Linked DNA regions of Homo sapiens: region 2 is linked to region 1. A link means that fine-mapping ties the variant in region 1 to the expression of a gene that starts in the linked region. Tissue or cell type: whole blood. Region 1 holds a variant in brackets; the other region holds the start of a gene. All regions are shown on one strand. Distances are from middle to middle.

The links. PIP is the estimated chance that this variant, and not a neighbour inherited with it, causes the effect.
Region 2: it holds the start of NINJ2-AS1, and the variant in region 1 is fine-mapped to the expression of NINJ2-AS1 in whole blood (INTERVAL, PIP above 0.99).

What each region holds. Positions count from the first base shown.
Region 1 is chr12:691,109-699,212 of GRCh38, forward strand. All of the region lies in intron 1 of LINC02455 (long intergenic non-protein coding RNA 2455), which reads right to left. The region is part of intron 1 of LOC101929432 (a long non-coding RNA gene); the gene reads left to right. Among named protein-coding and RNA genes, the nearest start is that of LINC02455, 21 kb to the right of the region's middle. The variant A/G (reference allele first, on the strand shown) is at 4,538.
Region 2 is chr12:626,916-635,019 of GRCh38, forward strand. It overlaps NINJ2-AS1 (NINJ2 antisense RNA 1), which reads left to right and starts at 3,976. Exons shown (of 5, transcript NR_122124.1): 1 at 3,976-4,070; 2 at 5,299-5,332; 3 at 5,594-5,701. All of the region lies in intron 1 of NINJ2 (ninjurin 2), which reads right to left. RefSeq lists silencers at 3,762-3,841, 3,902-4,001.

The sequences.
Region 1 (8,104 bases):
AAATAAAATAAAGAATGCAACTGTTTGTCTCTTCTCTACCTATGACCTGGAAGCCTGCTTTGAGTTGTCCTGACTTTCAGACCAAATCAATGTACATCTTACATATATTGATTGATGTCTCACATTTCCCTAAAATGTATAAAACCAGGCTATATCCCAAACACCTTGGGCACATGTGTCACAGGTGTGTCCTTAACCTTGGCAAAATAAACTTTCTAAATTGATTGAGACTTGTCTCAGGTACTTTTTGATTCACATTTTAGACACTTAGAAACATAAGACATAATCAATTTAAGAATTAAAAATATTACGCAATCGGCCAGGCATGGTGGCTCACGCCTGGAATCCCAGCACTTTGGGAGGCTAAGCGGGCGGATCACGAGGTCAGGAGATCGAGACCATCCTGGCTAACACGGTGAAATCCCGTCTCTACTAAAAATACAAAAAATTAGCCGGGCGTGGTGGCGGGCACCTGTAGTCTCAGCTACTTGGGAGGCTGAGGCAGGAGAATGGTGTGAACCTGGGATGTGGAGCTTGCAGTGAGCCGAGATCACGCCACTGCACTCCAGCCTGGATGACAGAGCAAGACTCAGTCTCAAAAAAAAAAAAAAAAAAAAAACAGATTACACAAATAAGGTCAATTATTATTCGAGACAGGATCTCACTCTGTTGCACTGGCTGAAGTACAGTGGTGCAATCAGAGCTCACTGCAGCCTCACCCACCCAGGCTCAAGCAATCCTCCCACCCCTGCCTCCTTAGTAGCTGAGACCACAGGCACATGCCACCATGCCTGGCTAATTGTTTTTTTCTTTTTTAGAGATGGGTCTTACTATGTTGCCCAGGCTGGTCTTGAACTCCTTGCCTCCCAAAGTGCTAAGATTACAGATGTAAATCATAGCAATTGGCCTTAACATAACATTATTTTAAGAGTTTAAATTCCTGAAAGCAATTTTGAAATTATTATACAAGTACCCTCCCCAATGTGTTCCTCAGTTGTCCTGGGTCCCAAGTACCCATATGGCACTCAGAATGGCTATAAAGGGCAGGGACCATCTGGGTCCTGAATTTACATACCAGGTATAGAGCTCAGGACAGGACCAAGATGTAAAGATGCCTAAAAAGGCCAACCCTTCCCAGCATGTCCCCAGGAGGCACAGCTGGGCCAGGGAGGACATATTGGGTTTGGCCCTGCCCTGCAGCTAGTGTCCTTGGTGCTATGGACATGCCAATGTCTTCAGGCCTCACCAAGGCCACCTGTCTAGACCCCAGAACCTAAAGGCTCAAAACCAAAGATGTTAGCTCACTGTAAAATGTGTGCAAGGATTGGGGGAAGCCCAGCAGCCAGCCCTCACCACTTTAGGTCACAGACAAATTCAGCAGGTATCAAAAATATCACAGAAGCAACAGGGTTTTTTTTGTTGTTTTTTGGGGTTTCTTTTTGAGACAGAGTCTCACTCTGTTGCCCAGGCTGGAGCCCAGTGGCACGATCTTGGCTTACTGCAATCTCCGCCTCTTGAGTTCAAGTAATTCTAGTGCCTCAGCCTCCTGAGTAGCTGGGATCACAGGTGTGTGCGACCACACCACACCCAGCTAATCAAGTAATCCATCCACCTCTGCCTCCCAAAGTGCTGGGGTTATAGGTGTGAGCCACCACACTCAGCTGAGGCAACAGTTTTATAATCTTAAAACATCTAGCAGAGACGGTATACATCTGTTTGACCAATAGACCACGTAAAAATGTTTGAACTATATTTAGTCTTCAAACTTTCTAATTTAATTTTAACAACAATTTAAAAACTAGTTTTATTTACCAAAGGTTACTAAAAATCGTGTGAACCTGAAAAGCATTTGGGCTTATTTACTTAGTTTATGAGTGCTCACTTATTTATAAGTCAACTTGGTATCATGTAGACAATATAAAAACACAGCATGTACACAGATACACATAAAAAATAGACACTGCTGGACATGGTGGCTGACGCCTGTAATCCCAGCACTTTGGGAGGACGAGACGGGCGGATCATCTGAGGTCGGGAGTTGAGACCAGCCTGACCAACATAGAGAAACCCCATCTCTATTAAAAATATAAAATTAGCCGAGCATGGTGGCACAGGCCTGTAATCCCAGCTACTTGGGAGGCTGAAGCAGGAGAATCGCTTGAACCTGGGAGGCGGAGGTTGTGATGAGCCGAGGTCGCACCACTGCACTCCAGCCTGGGCAACAAGAGCGAAACTCCATCTCAAAAAAAAAAAAAATAGACACAGACACAAATTAAGATTTTTATAGCTTTGGCTGTGTGCAATGGCTCACGCCTATAATCCCAACACCTTGGGAGACTAAGGCAGGTGGATCACTTGAGGTAAGGCGTTTGAGGCCAGCCTGGCCAACATGGCAAAAACCTGTCTCTTTTAAAGATACAAAAATTAGCCTGGCATGGTGGTGCGCACCTGTAGTCCCAGGTACTCAGGAGGCTGAGGCAGAAGAATCACTTGAGCCTGGGAGGCAGAGGTTGCAGTGAGCCAAAATCATGCCATTGTACTCCAGCCTGGGTGACAGACCGAGACTGTCTCAAAAAAAAAAAAAAAAGATTTTTACAGCTTTGAGTTTAAAATTTGTCATCAGACAGGTAAAACTCACTAGTTTAAAAGGACAGTTGGATTAAATTCTGTCTCTCTAAATGGAACAGATTAAAGTTTTCACAAGCCCTTATGGAGTTTCAGAGAAAACAGGGAAGCAAATTGCGTCTCAAAGGAGAGAGAATGTACGCATTTTCAAGAAGGAGTTTACATGTGTTAAAGGAAGATTAAAAGTGGATGTCAAGGTAATGCAAAATCATAGGAATTCACTAGAAAGTTGTGCAAGGAAATACATAGATGGGCCTAGAAAAAAATTCAGAAACTGAGGTAGGAGGCAGGACTCAACTCTGGAGGTGGGGCTTGGACACCAGACCAAACTGAAGACTAGCTCAAACAGGTCCAGGGAGGAAGCAGCTTTCCATAAGACACACCCACCAGTGTGCCATGTCAGTTTACCATCGCCATGGCAACACCCAGCCGTTACTGCCCCCTTTCATGGCAACAACCGGAGGACCCAGTAGTTACTCCCCTCATCTTAGAAAGTTCTACATAAACCACCCCTTAATTTGCATATAATTAAAAGTGGGTATAAAGATGAGAGCAGAACCACCTCTGAGCTGCTACTCTGCTACTCTGAGCTACTCTGGGGCAGCCCTGCTCCACAGCAGCAGCCCTTCTGCTGCTGCTGTACACGGCCACTTCAGTAAAAGTTGCTGAGTTCTTTCCTGGGCAAAGCTGGGAACCCTCCCGGGCTAAGCCCCGATTTTGGGGCTTGCCTGTCCCGAACCAAAACCTTTTCAAAGTAGCCAGCCAAATGCCAGAAAGTTGTATTTTGAAGACTAATCTAGTTGGATAGGTGGATTTTTAAATTTAGTTTTCCATTTCTTAACTGGATTACTGAGCTTAGGGTGGAGCCCATTAACAAATAGGGCCAAGAAAGTATTTGCTGTTCTCAGGGCCTAATAATTAAACACGTGAAAAGCAGGCACAGCTGGGAAGGTGATCTAGATCTTTAAAAATCAAGAATCCCACTTTTACTTTGAATCGCAGGTCCCCAAAAGAGGAAAGAATGCCATGGGTCCAGGGCCACACAATGTTTCCACAGTGCTCCTTGCAACATCAGCCCATTCTGTGGTCAGCCCATCCCCCACAGGAGGTCTTACCCCTTGTTGGAGAATGTTTTCATAACCTCCAAGCATTCGAACTTCACCTTTCTTATCTAAACACATAACGAAACAAGTAGCCCCCTGCAGTAATAACCATTCGCTGCATTTGCTGTCAGCTACTTCTAAAACTGCAGCTTTTGCCAGTCACTTGCCAGCCACTGCACACACAAAGGTCAAATTCTCTCTCAATACAAAGTAATCCTTTTGTACTCCAAAAGCCAGAGACCAGGAAACTCAATGCAAAAGAGAGCAGAGCTTTAGACCTGAGAAAAGTATGCCCACAATTCTCAGGACTCCACAAAAGAAAGAGAAGACCACAAAATAGAGCATGTGTGTGTGCGTGTGTGTGTGTGTGCATGTGTGTGCACACGTGTGCGTGCGTGTGTGCGTGTGTGGTTGCGTGTGTATGCGTCCGTGTGTGTGTCCGTGTCTGTGTGCGTATGTGCATGCGTGTGCGTGCATATTCATGCGCGTGCATGTGCGCGTGCGTGAGTGTGCGCTTGCGTGTGTGAGCGTGCATGTGTGTGCGTGTGCGTGTGTGGTGCCTTTTCCTGTGTTCCTCAAGAGGTCTCAGAAGTCTCTGCTAGAAGTCTCTAGATTTCTTCACGTGGTATCAAAGATGGCCAAAGAAAGGAGGAGCGGAAGTGGAAGGAAATGGAAGAACAAGGCCTAGCGGGGCTAATTTGGAAAGATTTTAAATTTTCTGAAAGACCAATGAAGTTTTACGTTTTTCTCAGCAAAATCATGCCAACAAGAAAGGAAGCAAATGGAGAGATTAAACTTTTTTTTTTCAA[A/G]AGGAGTTTCAGTTGACTGAAAAAGAATTCCCAGAAACGGGATCCCAGGGAGAAAAAGCAGAAAGGCCCTTTTTGTCAATAAAAATTATGCCCTGAATATCAGCTTTTAATTAAGCTGATTTCTAACCATAGAGCTCTTTAAAAAAATCTTTTCAAATCTTTTATCAGATTTCAGCCAGGACAAGTAGAAAGTAGGTCTCCCATTCTGTTTGGTTCTAAAATAGCTTTTTTTTTTTTTTCTGATCTATCAAAGGACCTCCGTTTTGGCTATTGTAATTTAGGGTCATCTGAAGTCCTGTGGGCCCATTTGTTCAAATGTCTGCAAGACAAAGCTCCGTAAGTGTTATACAGAATATCAGCCGATGTTTCCAAGGGAGGCTGCGTCGTTAGAGAGTCTTCAGACTTGAATAGGTTTGTTACCCATAATTTAGAGGCCTGAATCACTCACAGCCAAGTTCTGGGCTGTGTTTTGGGTCAAAATGTGCTGCTTGTGAGTGTGACTCCTTAGTGTGTCACTACTGAGTTGTGTCCACGTTTTTATGTGTCTCAGAAACATTGATCCCCAGAGGGTCACAAAGTCCTCACGAGTGCTAAGTGGCCAGCCTTTATGTGCACTTGTTGGCAGAGTGAGAGAGATTACGGATGTTCTCCTGAGAGAGGAAACCTTTTAAGGCACGAAAGTCCCAATACCCCCAGCAAGTCGCTAATTGTTTAGGGTGCCCTAACGGGCTGGAGGGAGCGAGTGCCTTTTATCTTTGGAGTGAAGAATCCACTCTCATATATTAGAAAAAGGGAATCTAAGAGAGGTTGGTCATGCATAAAAGTTTGATTTCCAAAATGAAAGGTCATGATGTAACAATGTCTTGGCCGAAAATGGAAGCAAACTGCTAACTCCAGACCTGTGAGTTGCCAGAAAAATATCCTGATCTCCTGACTTAAACAGGAAAGTCAGAGACAGAACCCTCATTCAGAGAGAGTCAAAGAGAAACCGCTCAAAGTCTAGACCTCCACCAAAGAAACGGGAGTCTGGATTCAGGAGAACTCACCCGCAACACCAATGAGACTTCTGAAGATGGAGAACGCAATGGGTTTGTGCTAGTACCAACCACTGCCTTCAGAGAAAAACAATGGGTGGTTGCTGTGGGGGATTCACTCTGAATCCTGCTGACTTACGCCAGCTATATCGACCTAAAGGAAAATACATTCTGAGTGGAGAGTTTACCTGGGCCAAGTTTGAGGACTGCAACCCAGAAGCATAGATTCAAGTTGCCCTGAATCTATCCTCCCAGTAGCAGCAGTTGTGTTTTTTTTTTAATCTAGTTATTTATTTATTGACTGGGTTATGAGACTGGCTAAGTTTTGTATTTTTGATAGAGATGGGGCTTTCACCATGTCACCCAGGCTGGTCTCAAACTCCTAGGCTCAAGTGGTCCACCCCCCTCAGCCTCCCAAAGTGCTGGGAATACAGGTGGGAGTCACTGCACCTGCCTACAAGTGGGTTTTTCTTTTTTCTTTTCTTTTTCTGGAACTTTATTTCTTCTAACAGGTACAAGTGGTAGTAGCCTTTTCCTTCTTTTAAAGGAAAAGAAAAAGGCAGTTCCTAAACTATTTACCAAGAATTTACATAAAAATAACCTAAGATATTGATTGGCTATACATTGTTATTTGTATCACACATCCCAGGAACATGAAGATAATGGGTGAGGCAGCTAGTCAGGAAACTATAGGGAAGAAAATAAAGAACAAAATCCCTTTAAACAATTGCATCCGGGGCATGGAGGTGGGGTTTGGGGGATATAGGTGGTTGTGGGGAGGGTGACTTAGAGACCCCTCTGAGCTATTTTTCTTTTTTCAAGTAGGAATAGAAGTGTGATGCTGGAGAAGGAAACCTGGACCAAAATGTGGTGTGGGTAACTTGTTTCTCTTTTCTGCGTCTCAACTTCCTCCAGCTCTATTTTTCAGAGAAGGAAGTTGCATGGGAAAGGAAATGGCAATCAGGTTTGTCTAGCTGAAGCAGTCTAAGCTGAAGTATAAAAAAAATTAAGGTGGGCTGGAGCGAGAGGAAGGCTGGGGAAAGCTGGTGAGGTATCTTGAAACCTGTGTTAAGGAATTTCCCTGGCTTAGAACAGGGCAATTGGTTTTTACCATTAAAATCCCTTTGGTTTTTACCATTAAAATTCCAAAGTTACAGCCCTCTCTTCCTCTTTGTAAATGTTGGTTAGCCACTACTGGACATTACCAATCCTCAGGGGAAACTAGTTGAGATTAGAAGAAACAATTGTAAAAAGCAAAGTAGAGGTTCCTCTTCAAAGACTTTCCTCCCCATCTAATTAGGAATAAATAGTAACTTCTCTTAGAAGCAAAATTTATTCAAAGACCTGTGTTAATATTCTTAAATATCTCTAGCCATAATAAAGAAATCAATGTACTTTATGTTCTTAGTTCCCACAATTTAGCCTAAATATTTGCCCTGCCATGCTTCTACTGGTCCAAGCAAGCATTAGGTCATAGCCTGTTCTTCTTCCTTATTTGAAGGTGTTTTTACCTTTCTCAGCATTCCACAAGTTACTTCCTCCTTCCTTTGTCCTCTTCTGCCTTTGCCTCTCTTAAAAAGTTCTAAGTTGCTAGCCAACTGGGACAAATACAGAATGTGAGGTCCTGTTCCAGCCAATGGAAACCGACACAGCAGTAGGGTGGACGCATCAGATTATAAATGACCCTGTCTCCTTTGTTCAGTGTACTCTCGTGGCAAAACTGCTGGCGAGTGTACCCTTTCTGCAGAAAGTGAAAATGGCCTTGCTGAGAAAATTAAATTTATGTTAAGTGCTATTTCTTTACAGCACCAGGGAACAAGCATTTCTAACACAACTTTACACACTGGTAGTAATAGCAGGTCTGCAAGGTTGACTCCAGCAGAGAAAGTCAGGAAGACAGTTAGTGCATGCAGCCAAAGAACTACAAACATAGGGAGGAGCCGGAATAGTCAATTTCAAAGAAAAGATCCTTCCAGTACACAGAATTACAATCTCTGAACACAACTCCCTGGCCTCAATTTTGATTTTAATTGACTGCATGGCTCAAGATAAAGGGCTGGTAAATTGAGACCTGAATTCTCCTTCAGCAACAACCAGGGAGAGCTGGAGGAATGGGTGGTAGTATACTGTAATCACCCATTTTTCAAATTAAGTCTTTAAGGCCCTAGTAAGCCAACTGAAAGGAATTCTTAGTTCCTCAGGCTAAAAGAGCACAGAAGTTGCTATGTGGGATGGGCACCTAGTGCCTCACGCCTATAATCCCAGCACTTTGGGAGGCTAAGGAGGGAGGATCACTTGAGGCCAGGAGTTTAAGACCAGCCTGGGCTGGTGAGACTGTCTCTACAAAAAATAAAAAAATTAGCCAGGCATGGTGGCACATGTCTGTAGTCCCAGATACTTGGGAGGCTGAGAAGGCAGGATTGCTTGAGCCTAGGAGTTCGAGGCTACAGTGAGCTATGATTGTACCACTGCACTTCAGCCTGGGTGACAGAGCAAGACCCTGTCTCAAATAAATAAATAAATAAATAAAATT
Region 2 (8,104 bases), 64 kb before region 1:
TCTCTACAAAAATTAAAAGAGTACGCAGGTGTGGTAAGACATGCCTGCAGTTACAGCTACTCAAAAGGCTGAGACGGAAAGGTTGTCTGAGCCTAGGAGTTCGAGGTTGCAGTGAGCTATGATTGTACCACTGAACACCGGCCTGGGTGACAGAGCCAGACCCCATCTCAAAAAAAAATTCAATAGAATAATTTGTGTAAAGTGCTAAATACAGTAATGGCCCATAGCAAGCACCTAATAACTGTTAACTATTATTTTTGAATTAAATCATAGCATCCAACCTGAAAAGCAATATATGGCAATAAGGAATTTTCTAGGCCATGCCTTTAGAATTTTTATCATCCTTTTAGAATTGAAGCTTCTTGTTAGAAGATTCTGTCCTGTATTTTCATGGATGCCCCAACAGCCACCCTCCCTGCCTTGCAATCAAACAGGTGCTCAAATATTTTTTGAGAATATAATTAAGTACATTTCTACTTTCTAATTTCTAAATGAATGAAATAGAGAACTAGGAAACTTAGGACAGTAAGACTGATGTCAGCTGGGCAATCAGAGAAGGCTTCATGGAGGAGGTGAGACTGACGTAGCCCTTGACAAGTTCGATAGGATTTAGATGGATAAAGTGAAGCAAGGAAAATTCTAATTATTGGAGCCTCGAATGGGTTGGGTGTTCATGAGAGGCAGGGGCAGACTTCGTGGGTACAGCTGCAGCATACTGCACACACATTAAGGGTGGCACCTCTGTGCCCAGACCTGGGCTTAAGTGGAACCAGACTCGCCTGGGACAGACTTTGGGCGCAGTGACAGGAGCCCATCAGCTGCTCAAGAGACCCCTGCCAAAATCTCAACTGGAGCTGGGCACAGTGGCGCATGCCTGTAATCCCTGGGCACAGTGGTGCATGCCTGTAATCCCAGCTACTTGCGTGCCTGAGGCAGGAGAACCCGGGAAGTGGAGGTTGCAGTGAGCTGAAATTGGGCCACTGCACTCCAGCCTGAGCGATAGAGCGAGACTCCGTCTCAAAAAGAAAAAAAAAGTCTCAATCAGCTAGGCCAAGTCCTTCCTGTCCTGTCCCTGTCCCTGCCGCATCCTCCCCGCCCTGCCCCCGGCTCCTCTTTCACACCCTGTGCCAGACAGAAGGCCTGGGAGTGAAAAGACTGGCCATGGGGACAGAGAGCTGGATCCAAAGGTCAAGGCTGAGTTTGCCAGAGCCTGCAGGATCCCTGCACCGCTTTACTGGATCCCCAGGTTGAGCTGAGATGCTGCTCTGGGTGGAGAAGGGGCCATGAGCCTCTGGCAGGCCTCTGTGTCACACCTTTCCACCAGGGAAAACTGGGTGTGGATGTTTCCCCTTCGTATGTACTCTGAGATCTCTATGAGGAGTCTTCCTAGAGGGGAAGGGGGAAGCCTCCTCATAGAGATCTCAGAGTACATAGGAAGGAGCCAGGTCTTTCCGTTCTTCTGCGTCTCCTCACAGCGTCACCTACAAGGGTCTGGCACACAGTGGACACTCTTCCTGGCTTTTCTGGTACAGAGTGACCAACATAACAGTTAATAGCATTTCCTCATTTTACAGACAGGGAAAGCAAAAAACATAAGCATGGTAATGCATATATAATACGTGTCTATGGCAGAGGCATTCGAACCAGAATGACTCCATCTTGAATAGGGGCTGGTAAAATGAGGCTGAGACCTGCTAGGTGGCATTCCCAGGAGGTTAGGCATTCTTAGTCACAGGATGAGATAGGAGGTCAGCACAAGACACAGGTCACAAAGGCCCTGCTGATAAAGCAGGATGCAGTAAGGAAGCCTGCCAAAACCCACCAAAACCAAGATGGCAATGAAAGTGACCACTGGTTGTCCTCACTGCTCAGTATATGCCAATTATACATTAGCATGCTAAGAGACACTCCCACCAGCACCATGGCAGTTTACAAATGCCATGGCAACACCTGGAAATTATCCTATATGGTCTAAAAGAAGGAGGAGTCCTCAACTGGGGGAGGGGGAAAATCTCCATCTCCTTCCCAAAAAGCTCATGAATAACCCACCCCTTGTTTAGCATATGATCAAGAAATAACCATAAAAATAGCCAACCAGCAGCCCTCAGGGTTGCTTTGCCTATAGAGTAGCCATTCTCGTGTTTCTTTACTTGTCTAGCAAACTCGCTTTCACTTTACTTCATGGACTAGCCCAGAGTTCTTGTACAAGATCCGAAAAACCCTCTCTTGGGGTCTGGATCGGGACCCCTTTCTGGCAATGATACCCTCTTATTGTGGTAATTCATTTAATCCTCACAATGATCCTCTGAGGTAGGTGCCATTATTATCTTCATTTTACATGTGGGAAAACTGAAGCCGGAAGGATGAACAGCTTCCCAAGTTCACCGAAGGAGTAAGTGGTCCACAGGACTAGGAGCCTGGGATTTGCACCGAGGCAGTCTGGCTCTGTTCTCCATTGGCCACTGCGATGCCACCTGGGTGGAGGGAGCACAGGTCCAATGGCGGGGAGAGTACAGTACAACCCAGGATCCTGTCTTCCAGGTCTCTCCACGCAATTAACCTACTCAAAACTTCATGACAGTCCAGCAAGCTTGTCCAACCCACAGCCTGTGGGCCCCGTGCAGCCCAGGACGGCTTTGAACGCGGCCCAAAACAAATTCGTAAATTGTCTTAAAACATTATGAGTTCTTGGTTGGGCATGGTGGCTCACGCCTGTAATCCCAGCACTTTGGGAGGCCGAGGCAGGTGGATCACCTGAGGTCAGGAGTTTGAGACCAGCCTGACCAACATGGAGAAACCTCGTCTCTACTAAAAATGCAAAATTAACCAGGCCTGGTGGCGCATGCCTGTAATCCCAGCTACTCAGGAGACTGAGGCAGGAGAATCACTTGAACCTGGGAGGCAGAGGTTGTGGTGAGCCGAGATCGTGCCGTTGCACTCCAGCCTCGGCGACAAGAGCAAAACTCAAAAAAAAAAAAAAAATATATATATATATATATATATATATGAAGTTTCTTTGCGATTTTTTAAAAGTGTATCAGCCATTGTTAGTGTTGCTGTATTTTATGTGTGGGGCAAGACAATTCTTCCAATGTGGCCCAGGGAAACAAAACAATTGGACACCCTGGATGATGAAAAAGAGCACTCTTCAGCCCCTGCTGTCACCAAAGCCCCACCTCAGTTCTTGCCCTTAGGTAACGCCAAGATAGCAAAATGGAATTTTACCAAACCGCTCTTAGGTTCCTTCCCCAGGAGACCAGAAATGCCCTGGGGACTGCCTGCCTTTGAGGCAAATTTTTTTTCCTTTTTAAAGAAAGTGGTAAACATCTGAAAATAGAGTTTTTGAAAGAAAGTGACTCTTCAGTTGTAATTATAGCAGAGAGGGTCATTGCTTTCTATCAGCAAGAAAGCTGCTTCTATTTTTTTTTATTCTCTTTTTCTTGGTTTTTTGTTTTGTTTTGTTTTGTTTTGTTTTTTGAGACGGAGTCTCGCTGAGTTGCCCAGGCTGGAGTGCAGTGGTGTGATCTCGGCTCACTGCAAGCTCCATCTCCCGGGTTCAAGCGATTCTCCTGCCTCAGCCTCCCGAGTAGCTGGGACTGCAGGCTCCGGCCACCACGCCTGGCTAATTTTTTTTGTATTTTTAGCACAGACGGAGTTTCACCATGTTGACAGGCTGGTCTCGAACTCCTGGCCTCAGGTGATCTGCCCGCCTCGGCCCCCCAAAATGCTGGGATCACAGGCGTGAGCCACCGCTCCCCGCCGCTGCTTCTAAATACAGCCTGTATAATGCAAATCCCCAAAGAGGGCCAGCCTCTGGCCCCATTCAGCTTCCTCCCTCAGAGGCTGGGTGCGTGCGCCCTGGGCGGGGCGGCGGGCTCCCTCCGGAGAGGCCCCAGCCCGGCCTCGTGCCCCTCCCCAGCAGGCTTCCGGCCCTGCGCACAGACCCAAATGGCGCGGGAGGAGGAAGAAGGGGTCAGCTTCAAGCCTGACGTTCTAGGGGGGAGCCGCTTCTTAAGTACGTGCTAGGATCAAGGGTGCATTTGCAAACTTTTCAAAATGCCTTAGAGGAGGTAGGAGTCAAGCCCTTGGGATCTGGAGGGGAAGGAGGAGAGTCAGTTAAACCGCAGAAAGGTTGGTGGGGAGTGGGCTCAGTAATGGCCCCTGTCACAGCCTCGGGCCGGGACTCGCCAGCTCATTTTCTATTTCTAACTCAATGCCAGGCACTGAGCACTGTGCTCAACCTAGTAATTTGGAGACGGAGGTGGATATGCATATAACAGAACAGGATGCTCTCCGGACAAACGTTCTGAAGGAAAAGCAAACGGAAGATCCTCCCGCCTCTGCTGGGCAGTCTCTAATGACCCCTGGGGTATGTTCCAGACATGCGTGGGCATCTGCGAATTTACTCACCTGAGAGCTGCCTCTACCTTTTTTTGTTAAATTTTTATTTATTTATTTATTTATTTTGAGACGGAGTCTCCCTCTGTCACCAGGCGGGAGTGCAGTGGCGTGATCTCTGCTCAATGCAACCTCCGCCTCCCGGGCTCAAGCGATTCTGCTGCCTCAGCCTCCCGAGTAGCTGGGAGTACAGGCGCGCGCCACCACGCCCAGCTAATTTTTATATTTTTAGTACAGACGGGGTTTCACCATGTTGGCCAGGATGGTTTCTATCTCTTGACCTCGTGATCCGCCTGCCTCGGCCTCCAAAGTGCTGGGATTACAGGCGTGAGCCACCGCGCCTGGCCTGCCTCTACCTCTGATCCCTGGGATCAGAAATGAGAAATGCAAAGATTGTCCCTGTGTTATGTGTGTACTGTTTGTAATTGTAATTCACAATCCCCTTTCTTGCTCCTCACCCCATATTCAATTAAGAGAGAAAGGTGAAAAACACAAAGCACAAAATGTTTCCAGGAAACTATCTGAAACTCCTGGAAGGCTAGATTTAGGTATAAACAGAGTAGAACTCCAGATTTCTGCAATGCTCCTTAGGGGCTGAGCTTCCTGCATGCCCTTGACAATTAGAGGAGTTTTTTTTAATACTTCAAAATTATTCCAGAAAGGCATGCAGATGAGAAGATAACCAGGTTATGAGGAAGCCCAAGGTATTTGGTAAGGATGCTCAAGTTTTGGGGAAGGTCAGCTGAAATAGCAATTTGTGGGTGGACTATTAGCAGGGAGTTGACTGGAGAATTAATCAGACGTTGAAGGGACATGGGGGACCCGGGAGGATGAAGTCTGAACTCGGGCTCAGGATATGGAAAAAGATTGAGTAAAGCTGAGATTCCTGTGTGCTTAAAGTCCTAACCAGCCCCAGGGTGTCTGAGGCACGCTGGTAAGTAGAATCAGAGATTCCATTCAGCAAAAGCAGACAGGAAAACAAATCTCTTTTCTTTGTTTGTCCTGGTTGAAAACCAAACACGGTAGCCGTTTGATGAAATTCCAGTGTCAGGAGTGTTTGGGCAGGGAAGGGAGGGTAAAATTGCAGCTAGCCTCTGACCACAGGGAAATCAGCCTAACGGCTCCATTCAGGCCATTCTTCAGCCCTGCACTCTGGAATGTTCACAGGGTGTCTGTGCATCTCCCCTGATTCCAGCCCACAGGACACTTGCTCTCTCTTTCTTGTGACCCCAACATGTCAGCTGGCAAGACTCAACATTCCTGTCTGGGACTGAGCAGCTTGAACCACTTGTATGAGTCACAGGTAATTTTCAGCAGTGTGAGAAAACACTGAATGAAGAGAAGTACTAGGTCCTGAGGAGGCTTAGCTCTGGGGTAATGGAGATGGGGGTGGGGGTGGAGAGAGGGTTCTAAAGGTCAACTGCAATGTCCCCCAGTTTTCATGTATCTTCATCAACATAGACAAATCCCAGCGGATCTAAGCTTTTGAAAACTTGACCTTTTGTAAAAATGAGGAAACTGAAGTTATAGCCCTTTCTGGAGTGTGGAAGCTTTGGAAACATCGCACCACAGTGAAGCAAGCCGGGGAGGGTGCCAGCCCAAACCAGAACCAAGTGTGGGCATTTCATGCCATGAACACAAAAGGTTAGTGGGCCGGGTTGAGCTTGGGCAAGATCTCACAAGATCTTAGATCCAGTGTATTTTCTGTCAGTAGATTTCAATCAGAAAGGTCGTGAAATATACCTCAGCCTGGCATTGGGCTTGGGGCAAAGATCTAGGACTTTCTTTTCCAGGGAAGTTCTCTGAGAACTGAATCAATTCCTGCCCTCTAATCTATCTTGCATCCCTTCCTGAACCAACCTCCCTAAAACTGTGCCCCACTCCTCCATTAAAAAAAAACAAGGCCGGGCGCGGTGGCTCACACCTGTAATCCTAGCTCTTTGGGAGGCCGAGGTGGATGGATCACCTGAAGTCAGCAGTTCAAGACCAACTTGGCCAACATGGTGAAACCCTGTCTCTACTAAAAATACAAAAATTAGCCAGACATGGTGGCACGTGCCTGTAATCCCAGCTACCCGGGTTGCTGAGGCAGGCGAATCACTGGTTCCACCAGGAGGTGGACGCTGCAGTGAGCCGAGATGGTGCCACTGCATTCCAGCCTGGGCAACAGAAAGAGACTGTCTCCAAAAAAAAAAAATCATGTCATTTAAAAACTTCTGAGGCTGGGCCCAGTGGCCCATGCCCGTAATCCCAGCACTTTGGGAGGCTGAGGCAGGCAGATCACTTGAGGCCAGGAGTTCAAGACCAGCCTGGCCAACACGGCAAAATCCCGTCTCTACTAAAATACAAAAATTAGCTGAGCGTGGTGCCACATGCCTGTAGTCCCAGCTACTCAGGAGGCTGAGGCAGGAGAATCATTTGAACCCAGGAGGTGGAGGTTGCAGTGAGCCAAGACTGCCCCACTGCACTCTATCCTGGGTAACAGAGTGAGATTGTGTAAAAAAAACAAACCACTTTAGAGTTTTCCACTGTCTGCTAAATCAAGTACACATTCCTTTGCCTGGTTATTTAAAAATCCCCCATAATTCGGCCCCACCCCACCTATCCAGTTGTGCTTTCCCCCACACACACCGTCTGATCTGGTCAGAAAGGCCTTTGCACTGTCCCAGATAGCTTACTCATTCCTGCCTGTTTCATTCCCAGTTTTCTCCACATTCATTCCTGAATCTGAATTTATTCTTCTTTAACAAAACCAAAAGACCCTACCTTAGGATATTTGGCCAACTACTTCAGTTTGCATTTCTCCTTCTCCAAGTAATTACCAAGTCACGCCTTGATATATATACCTCCCCCAATAGACTATAAGCCACCATGAGTTCAGCACAACTTATGTAAGTTATAGTGCCTCACATAAGTTGTGCTCACTAAATAAATGTTGATTAGTTGCAGTTCTTTTTTTTTTTTTTTTTTTTTTTTTGCACTGTCTCCCGGGCTGGAGTACAATGGCACGATCTCGGCTCACTGCAACCTCCGCCTCCCAGGTTCACACGATTCTCCTGCCTCAGCCCCCCTAGTAGCTGGGATTACTGGCGCCCACCACCACAGCCGGCTAATTTTTTGTATTTTTAGTAGAGACGGAATTTCACCATGTTGGCCAGAATGGTCTTGAACTTCTGACCTCGTGATCCGCCTGCTTCGGCCTCCTAAAGTGCTGGGATTACAGGCATGGGCCACCGCGCCCGGCCTAGTTGCAGTTCTTTTTCTTCTGCAGTAAAGGCCAAACACACACAAAATCAGTCTCCTCCCAATCCTGACTTGCATCCTCTAAGTTTAGTAGCACAGAGAGAAAATGTAGAGAATGGTCGTACCCAAGATATTAAGGGGGGATGAGTTCAAGACAAAATAAAATGTTTGCCCAACGCTGACATTTTAAATGCTCATCTGAAAATTGGCACCTCCAGAATGTTGCCCTCTTCAGAGCATTCAGACCCAGGGCACCATAACATTAAATTCCTTTGTGTTTAAGACATTTCCTCTTAATTCTCTTTCTCTTTGAGGGAATGGTATAAGTACAAGAGGTTGGAAGAAACCATACACTTCTTTTTTAAAAAATAGAGACAGGAGCTGGTCATGTTGCCCAGGCCAGTCTAGAATTCTTGGTCTCAGGCTAATCCTTCCCCATCGGCCTGCCAAAGTGCTGGGATTA